Homo sapiens: one gene and its partner. The protein of the gene in region 2 interacts with the protein of the main gene of each other region in a pairwise test. Each region holds a gene or a part of one and is shown on either strand. Other genes may lie near its edges.

Region 1 (5,493 bases), on a different chromosome or scaffold from region 2:
CCTTCAGTCCTGCAGCCTTCCTTACTCAGGGGAACACCCTTGTTTTTGTGTATTATCTCAGCCAGGGGTGCCGTGAGTCACAGAGGCCAGGCTGGGCCCCTGCACATGCCCCCAGGTGCTTCTTGTGTCCTGGAGAAGAAGACACCTGTATTAACAGCAAAACTACATTTCTGACACAACGAAATACCTTTTAGGTAGACAGATTTTGAAATTTAGTGTAGAAATTCAAAGGTAGGCTCTAGAGTCAGGCTGTCTGAGTCAAGTCCCAGTGACTCATGCCACTAGGACTTGCTGTGTGGCCTTGGGCACGCTGCTTAAACTCTCTGGGCCTTCATGTTCTTAGTTTTAAAATGAAAATAATGACAACAGTGCTTAGCTCCTAGGGTTGTGGAGAGAAATCAATTAAACAGTAAATATAAAGTGTTTGTAACAATGTCTGCCATATGGGAAATACATGAGAAATGTTAGCTGCTCTTCTTGTTAAATACAGGCTATCGACACCAGCCCATTTAAAGTTTTACGCAATGTAGAGTGATTCAGGTGTGACTAGGCTGCAGACTGATGGCTTTGGGGGTGAGGTAGAGGTGCCCAGTCCTGCCTAGCCTTCTTTGTGCCCCATTCACCTCTCTTGTCCACCCAAGGCTACTAGGAGGGGACCTCAGGGAGGGTTTCATCTTAGGAAGATGCCTTTTCCTTTCTCAGGGAGGGTGGGTCAGGGTCTTCACCTCATAACCCCATTCCCCAAGCAGCTGTAAAATCCTGTGCTTGTAGCTGTGAGCCTCCTGCAGGGCTGGGAGACGTGGTGGCCACAGCTCTGTCTTCCCATGTGCTGTGTGCGGAGTCTCTGGGAGACTGTTACTCTTGCCTGTTGCGCTGTTGCTACAGATGCTGGCTGGAGCTGTCTCCCAGCCTTAGTTTCTCCAGACCCTAACTTGTCCTCCTAGGTGATGTGGGCCTCCCTGGAAGGCTGCCGTCACCGTGAAATTTCCCTACAGAAGCACTGCCTTTGCCACCTTGCACCCCCTTCCTCAAGGCTCTGGGTTGAGCTGGGAGCCCCGCTTCAGGATTCCTCCCTGTCTCAGCTGTGCTTTTCACTTCCTGCAAGCAGTGCCTGAGGCACAGACACTTGATTTATAAGGTGGATGCATGAGTGGGTTGGACTCTGAGAGATCCTTGTTTTCATATTTTCATAGGTAGTTGCCTTTTGCTCCCTAAATCAGAAGCCCTGGGGGTAAACCTGGAGAAAACTCGTTCTCCTGTGCAGACAGACAGGTAGCAGAGAGGGTTAATCCACTCCTGTCTCAGACCTCTGCCTGGCCCAGCCTCTTCCCAGGGGGCCCAGGCTGCCTGCAAGGGAGGCCCCGAGGATTTCACCTGGAAAGTCGGCGGCACAGGGTGTGAGGTGTAACTGAGGTGCAGCAGCTCCACTTTGGGTGTATCGTGGAGTGACCCACTGAGGAAACCTGACCATCATGAGCGCTTTTCATTTCTTGCTTTTGTTTTTGGAAAATGCATTTACACATCACATTTCCGAAGCACAAGCGTTGGGAACACAACCCATGTGTTAACTAGAGGCCCTGTTTTCCCGTGGCTTTTTTCCTCCAGAGAAGCTCAGCTGCACATTGTCCCTTCCCACCCGACTCTGGGCCAGTGTCACATCCTTTGCCACCTTTTGAGGTCAGCTGAAACCCCGCACTGCCGAGGAATGCTGTTTTTGGCCCCAACTAACATACTTCTCCACTAGTCCCCTTAGCACTTTGTATTTAATTTGTACACGATGGGCAGTTCTTGATTCATAGACAAATGAAAGGTGTTGGCTGGGCCTGTTCCATCACCCGAGGGCTCTCTAGCCCTGGAGGCCACGGTAAAGGCTGATCTGAGATGTCCTTCTCTCCCTTTCCCATGCCCCTCTCCCCGAGGGCTCTCCCCTTGCCCTCGTTTTGCTCCATGGTCATGGCCTCTCATGGGGATGTCCCTCTAGTTGCCTTGTCTTGCCCTCTGGTGCTGGCAGAAGACCCTGGAACCCACATGATCTTGGGCTCTCGGAGGCCCTGCTTACCTGGAGGGAGCAGGTGAGGCAGGGGCTGCAGGCGGAACCCAGAGCCAGCAGGAAGGATATGAGGTGAGTTCTTGTGTTCTCCTATTAAATATTGGCCAGGCCTCTTTTTTTTCTTCTTTAAATAGACTATTTTTTCTTTTTCCTGAGACAGTCTTGCTCTGTAGCCCAGGCTGGAGTGCAGTGATGCGATCTTGGCTCACTGCTACCTCTGCCTCCCAGGTTCAAGCAATTCTCCTGCCTCAGCCTCTGGAATAGTTGGGATTACAGGTGTGCACCACCATGCCCGGCTAATTTTTTGTTTTTAGTAGAGATGGTGTTTCACCGTGTTGGTCAGGCTGGTCTTGAATTCCTGACCTCAAGTGGTCCACCTGCCTCAGCCTCCCAAAGTGCTGGGATTACAGGCATGAGCCACCAGGCCTGGCCCCAAATAGACTTCTTATTAGACTTAAATAAATAAATAAATAAATATATATATATATATATATATATATATATATATATAGTCAGGATCTCACTATGTTGCCCAGGCTGGTCTTGAACTCCTGGGCTCAAGTGATCCTCCTGCGTTGGCCTCCCAAAGTGCTGGGATTATAGTAGACTTTTTTTTTAATAGACTTTTAAAAATAGACTTTAATAGATTTCTTAATAGACTTTATAAAGTCTGTTAAAAGTCTTTAAAAAGTCTATTAAAAGTCTTTTAACAAACTTTATAAAGTCTATTAAAGTCTTTTAAATAGGAGTCTTTTAAAGAGGAATTTTAGGTTCATAGCAAAATTGAGCGAAAGGTACTGAGAGTTTCTGTATACTCACAGCCCCTACACACGCAGCCTCCCCACTATCAATATCCACACCAGAGCCATACATTTGTGGCTGATGAACCTGCACATCACTCTCACCCAGAGCCCACAGTTTACATCAGGACTCACTCTTGCTGCTGCATATTCTATGGGTTGGACAAACGGACAATGACATGGATCCACCATTAGAATATCACACAGAATAGTTCCACCTCCCCCAAAATCTTCTGTGCTCCACCTCTTCCTCCGAAACCCTAGCAATCACTGCTCTTTTTATTGTCTCCATAGTTTTGCCTTTTCCAGAACGTCCTGTATTTGGAATCTTACAGTCTGCAGCCTTTTCAGATTGGCTTCTTTTGCTTGGCAGTGTGCATTTAGGGTACCTCCATGTCCTTTCACGGCTGGGTCTCCTTTTTTACAACCTCTTATACCCACGTTTCTTTTTGCTTTTCCAGGAAGGAGAAAGATGTGGAAGAGACCTTTGCTTTCCCCAGGACAAACCTCTGTCCCCATGTGCAGTGGCAGTGGGGGTGGTGGCTGGTGAGACCTCCAGGCAGGAACAGGAAGCAAGCCCTCTCCCTGCTCACCCTCCTCTCTGAGCTTTCCCCACTCCACCCTGGCCGGCTGTTGCCTGCCACCAAGCACCCGGGCACCTTCTGTGATGTGCTGGGCTCCCGCCCTCACTTCCTGGCCCTCCTCCCTCTGTGTCCTGTTTCTTCTGCCCCTCACTCTGTGCCCTCCTTCCACTGCTTTTCTGTCCTCCAGGTCAGCCCCTTCTTGACTCTCCCGAATACCCATCAGAACGCACCTGTGTGCTCTGCTCCCAGTTCGCTCTGCTTCCAGCCTTTGCCCTTAAGCTGATCTCTGACTCCTTCTTGAAGTCAATCAGACCCCGCCCTGCAGGGAGGGACAAGGTGAGGCCTGAGCTGGCCTAGGAGGGGCCTATGGCTTGGGAGGTGCCTCTGTGGGCAGCTACAGTGGCGAGAGTGGGTTTGAGGAAGCTGGCTGTGCAGCACACTTGTCCTGAGTCTGTTTCCAGACAAGTGCCGCCTTCCACAAGAATTTGCCTTGGCTTCTCTGTGACGAGCCATGCAATGCCACGATCTGTTAATTTAGGTGGCATATTTTAGAGGCAGAGATAAGGACAAGGGGCCATTTCCTAGCCGGTAGTCTTACCTGAAGCTGACAGATGGACCAGGGCAGGGGCTGATAGAGGCTGGCACCCACAGCAAAACAGAGAATTCAACCGCTCCTAGAACAAGACACCAGAGGCAGAACCGTTTGGGAGGAGCAGCCACTCAAGACGAGTTGCAAACTTTGGCGGCTTTTTAACGATCTTTGAGACCCTGACCAGATTCAGAAAGGAGGAAGGACTTGGCTGGGAGAAAGCTGGCCAGGGTAGCTAAGGCTATGGCACAGAGCGGAGAGGGGAGAGGACACTGGGGCAGGTAGTGCCCATGCAGTGGGCGGACAGTGCTAACGCCCACTTAGTCAGGTTGAGAAGGGCGAACGTGGTGACCGGGGTAACTCCTAGTTGGAAAGGAAAGAATAGAGTCAGGAAAAGTTCGTGGCTCAGGAGTGCCAAGGGGTCATCATCCCCCATTACCAAGGTTTGGTTGCTCAGGGATTGCACACCGCTTTGTGGTTATAGGGGTTTTGTATTTCTCATCATCATCCTTCCTGCTGCCCGCAATGCAAGCCATTTCAGTGTGCACTGGCAGCTAGATGAAGGAAGGTGAACACACTTAGTCAACTTGAAGCTTGCTTGCAATTCCAGAAGGTCTTTGGTGTTTCTGAGGAAGGGGATTTGCCTTCCATGTTAAAATGATGATTGATACAAAGACAATGAATGCTAACGTCTTTCACCCTCAGTGTTCAAGAGGACTGTGAGTTATGTATTCTCAGTTATGGGCTCACCAACTCCGCAGAGAATTGGGGGGATTTGGATTAGAAGAGAGTTTCAGGAACAACCTGATTTTGAGGACTACAATCTGTTTCCATTCCACAAAGGAAACTGCGACAAAGTTAATGGAGTGAGGATGGATCGAGAAAAGAGACTTGCAAAGATTTAAAGGGAAAGGGGCCACATGCACATGATGGAGTTAGACCCTTTCACACACGGAAACGGACTCGAAAGGGACCAAAGACATACATGTAAGAGCTAAAACTGTAAAACTCTTAAAAAGAAAACATAGGAGTAAATCTGCTTGACTTTACATCTAATTCTTGGATGTGACCTCAAAGCACAAATAACCAAAGAAAAAAAAATAGATAAATTGACATCATCAGTATTAAAAGACTTTTATGCTTCAAAGGACACCCACAGGAAAATGAAAAGACAAAGCATAGAATGGGAGAAAATATTCACAGATTATATATCTGATAAGAAAATTATATCTAGAATGTAAGAAGAACTCTTCCAATTCCATAATAAGAGGCAAATAATCCAATTAAAAATGAGCCAAAGATCTGAATAGATATTCCCCTCACGAAGATACACAAATGGCCAATATGCACATGGAAAGCTGTTCAATGTCATTAGTCATCAGGGGATGCAAATCAAAACCACCAGGAGATACCACTTTATATCCACTAGGATGGCTAGAATTCAAAAGCAAGGTAATAACAGGTGGGGCC
Region 2 (3,836 bases):
TGGTGTCAGAGGAAGGGTACCAGCGCACCTGCAAGAGAAGCCAACGTCAGGAGCCAGCTGTGCATCCCTTCCCTCAACAGGAAGCCAGGTAACCATGGCCATCGGTGTCCCCGCTGGAGTCCTGGTTCTGTCACTGATTGGCTGGCACATTTTGGGCCAGTTACTCACCTTTAAGCATCAGTTTCTCTATCCGGCAAGTGGGAGTGCACTGCCTGATGTGCCTCCTCTGCAGGACACAGGTTCCAGCGAAGGAAAGTCACGCAGGCGTCTCATACCCCAATCAGCCCAATCCAAATGGGCCACTATACTGGTGGGAGCCCTGGCAGCTGGGGGCAGTGGTGCCAGCAACCCGCCCTTCCCCTTTACTGACACAGCACGGAATTCCTAATTCTGTGGAGGAGGAGGAAAAGAATGAGCCTCATACATTTTTGTTTGACTTCTTTGGGTCTCAGTGTTCTCATCTAGCTATAGGACAGAAATGACGAAGTCATATGTGGTTGTGAGGATCAGGTAAGACAGGATGTAAAGATACAGTAAGGCCGGGTGCAGTGGCACACACCTGTAATCCCAACACTTTGGGAAGCTGAGGTGGGAGGATCACATGGGCTCAGGAGTTCAAGACCAGCCTGGGCAACATAGGGAGATAATGTCTCTATTAAAACCAAACAAGGCCGGGCGCAGCGGCTCACGCCTGTAATCCCAGCACTTTCGGAGGCCGAGGTGGGCGGACCACCTGAGGTTCAGAGTTCGAGACCAGCCTGACCAATATGGAGAAACCCCATCTCTACTAAAAATACAAATTAGCCGGGCGTAGTGGTGCATGCCTGTAATCCCAGCTACTCGGGAGGCTGAGGCAAGGAGAATCGCTCGAACCCGGGAGGCGGAGGTTGCAGTGAGTTGAGATCGCGCCATTGCACTCCCGCCTGGGCAACAAGAACAAAACTCCGTCTCCAACAAAAACAAAAACAAAAAACAAAACAAAACCCAAAGTCCGTGTAGACCCCAAGGGGTAGGACTCTCCAACATCAGTCCTGATTCTTCTGAGAAGCCATGGATGAGACCCAGCTGAGGCTCCCGTTTTGACCTTCCCACCCCTGCTGTGCCATGCCCTCCATCACAAGCCTCTAAGTCCAGAGGTCTATAACGTCAGGTGGGCGGCAGCTATCTGAGATCATCCTCACCAGTGCCTGGAAGTTGCCTAAACCCTGGCACTTGCCAGAAGGCCCCACAGAGCAGTAGCCCCAAAGCTGGGTTCCCAGAGACTGGTCAAGAAAATGGCACGTTCCCTCCTCCCTGTGGGCCAGTCATCTGGAAGGCAAGTATGCTGACTGCCAAGACCGCAGGGAAGGCCGCCTGCCCCAGTTATGCACGGTGAAGCATGTCTGTCCCAGCCTGACCCAGGACAGGGAAAGGGGTGTGGCGGGGGGAGCGGGACAACACAGGACCTTGAGTTGCGGTTGGGGGATGAGCATCCAGGGAGGGGAGCTGGAGTCCCCTCAGGAAGGGAAGGGGCAGCACATGAGCGTGTGGCAGGAAAGGAGTAGAAGCTGGGCCTGCAGACAGCTCCCTTGAGGTTGGAGCAGGCAGACCCAGTTACCCACTTGGCTGCTGGGAACTCCTGCTTCCTGGGTAAGCCATGCCAGGCCGTCTGGGGGCTGATGGAAGCTTCCTAAGAACCCGTTCCTATCCCCGCCAAATTCTAGGTGCTGTTTTGTACACTGCAGAATTCCAGCCACCACATCCCAGGAGCTCAGCGGGAAGTTAGAAACCTGGCTGGACACTAGCACTTATTCCACAAGAGAGGGACACACGAGGAAACGAGCAATGCTGCTATCAGAGAAGCCGGCGGCTGGCACCAGCTCAGGGAGCCCCTTAGTGGGCCCTGACCACTGCCCTTCATGTAGCCTCCGGCAGCCCCACAGCAAGGAAATCCCGGACGGGCTGGGTGTCCCGCAGGGCCGGACAAGGGGAGAACATGGACGACAGAATGGAAGGAGCTCAGGAGGCCTGCAACCCAACCTCTTTCACCACTGGGAAGCTAAGGCCTTGAATGACTGCCTAAGGCCGCCCTCAGCATATCTGCTGGATCCTGCCCTACACTCTCGCTACAAGGTGCTGGGATTCCTGCTTCCCAAGCAGCGACTTTCCCTCCAGCCTGAGGGACTCCTTGGGGAGAAAGTGGAGGAAAGCTCCCATATTTGGGCTTGGGACAGCTGTGCCACTGAAGCAGACGGAATGCATTTAGAAGGGCTGCTTTTCCGCTTCCTCCGGGTGCCTGGCATAGGCCAGTGGCCTGGGTCCTCTAGAAGCCACACAATCCCTTCCTAGAGCTCTTCTTTCTGCTCCAGCTACAGGAGACCCCCAGGGGGCCAGGCCAGCAAGACAGGGCACCCGCAGTGTCCTTTCAGGGCCTCCAGTTGTGCCCAGGGGGGGGGGGGCTCCTGAGAGTACCCCCCACAGGCTATAGTGACCAGGTTCCGAGAGGGCTGCTTCAAAACAAAGAGCGGAGGATGCAAACTCAGCCGTCTCTCAGATCCTGGGACTGACCAGTTGAGAAGATACACCAGAAAGCAAGCAACGGGATGAACCTACATAAGAATAAATATAAGGCCAGGTGTGACAGCTCACGCCTGTAATCCCAGCACTCTAGGAGGCAGAGGTGGGCGGATCTCTTGAGCCCAGAAGTTTGAGACCAGCATGGCCACCATTACGAAACCCCGTCTCTGCAAAAAAATACAAAAATTAGCTGGGCGTGGTAGCACACACCTGTAATCCCAGCAATTTGGGAGGCTGAGGCAGGAGGATCGTGCTTGAGCCCAGGAGGCAGAGGTTGCAAAGAGCAAAGGTCATGCCACTGCACTCTAGCCTGGGCAACGGAGTGAGACTCTGTCTCAAAAAAATAAAAATAACTAAAAAAAGAGAAAGGAAAAAAAAAAGATATAAACAACCAAAGATATGGAAGCCTCACTTATCCGAAATTAAAACATTTAACCCAGACTGGTAAGTCTACACTTTCACCGTGTCATAGTTCTAGGAATTTATCATAAAGAAAACAAAACAATGGCTGGGCGCGGTGGCTCATGCCTGTAATCCCAGCACTTTGGGAGGCCGAGGCGGACGGATCACCTGAGGTCGAGAGTTCGAGACCAGCCTGACCAACACGGAGAAACCCCATCTCTACTAAAAATACAAAATCAGCTGGGCGTGGTGGTACATGCCTGTAATCCCAGCTACTAGGGAGGCTGAGGCAGAAGAATCACTTGAACCTGGGAGGCGGAGGTTGAGGTGAGCTAAGATCACACCATTGCACTCCAGCCTGGGCAACAAGAGTGAAACTCTGTCTCAAAAAAAAAAAAAAAGAAAGAAAGAAAACAAAACAGAAGAGGTGCCCAGAAGTACACACAAGGATATCCATTGTTGTATAGCTATCAGTAAGCAAAACTGTATAAACAAACCAATTTACCATCTACAGGGAGCTGGACACATTCGTACAATGGTGTACTAGCCAGGTATCCAAAATGTAGAGCTACACTTACTATTATTTATTTTAAGTCCTAATATTTAAGTTTTTTTGGTTTGTTTTGTTTTTTTTTTTTTTTTTTTTTTTTTTTTTTTTTTGAGACAGAGTCTCGCTCTGTCACCCAGGCTAGAGTGCAGTGGCGCGATCTTGGCTCACTGCAACCTCTGCCTCCTGGGTTCAAGCGATTCTCCTGCCTCAGCCTCCTGAGTAGCTGGGGTTACAGGTGCCCGCCACCACGCCCAGCTAATTTTTGTATTTTTATAGAGACGGGGTTTCACCGTGTTAGCCAGGCTGGTCTTGACCACCTGACCTCAGG

The links. Proteins that work in one complex are often made in the same cells at the same time.
Region 1: the proteins of RBPMS2 (region 2) and AOC1 interact in binary tests that used the Homo sapiens proteins (3 or more experiments, as listed by UniProt).

The regions. Positions count from the first base shown.
Region 1 is NC_000007.14:150,850,730-150,856,222, reverse strand, and holds the start of AOC1 (diamine oxidase [copper-containing] isoform 2 precursor), read right to left. Parts: upstream 3,707-5,493; 5' UTR 3,665-3,706; intron 2,120-3,664; exon of another isoform or gene 2,060-2,119; intron 1-2,059. UniProt on the Homo sapiens protein: Catalyzes the oxidative deamination of primary amines to the corresponding aldehydes with the concomitant production of hydrogen peroxide and ammonia.
Region 2 is NC_000015.10:64,741,215-64,745,050, forward strand, and holds part of RBPMS2 (RNA-binding protein with multiple splicing 2), read right to left. Parts: intron 29-3,836; coding exon 1-28.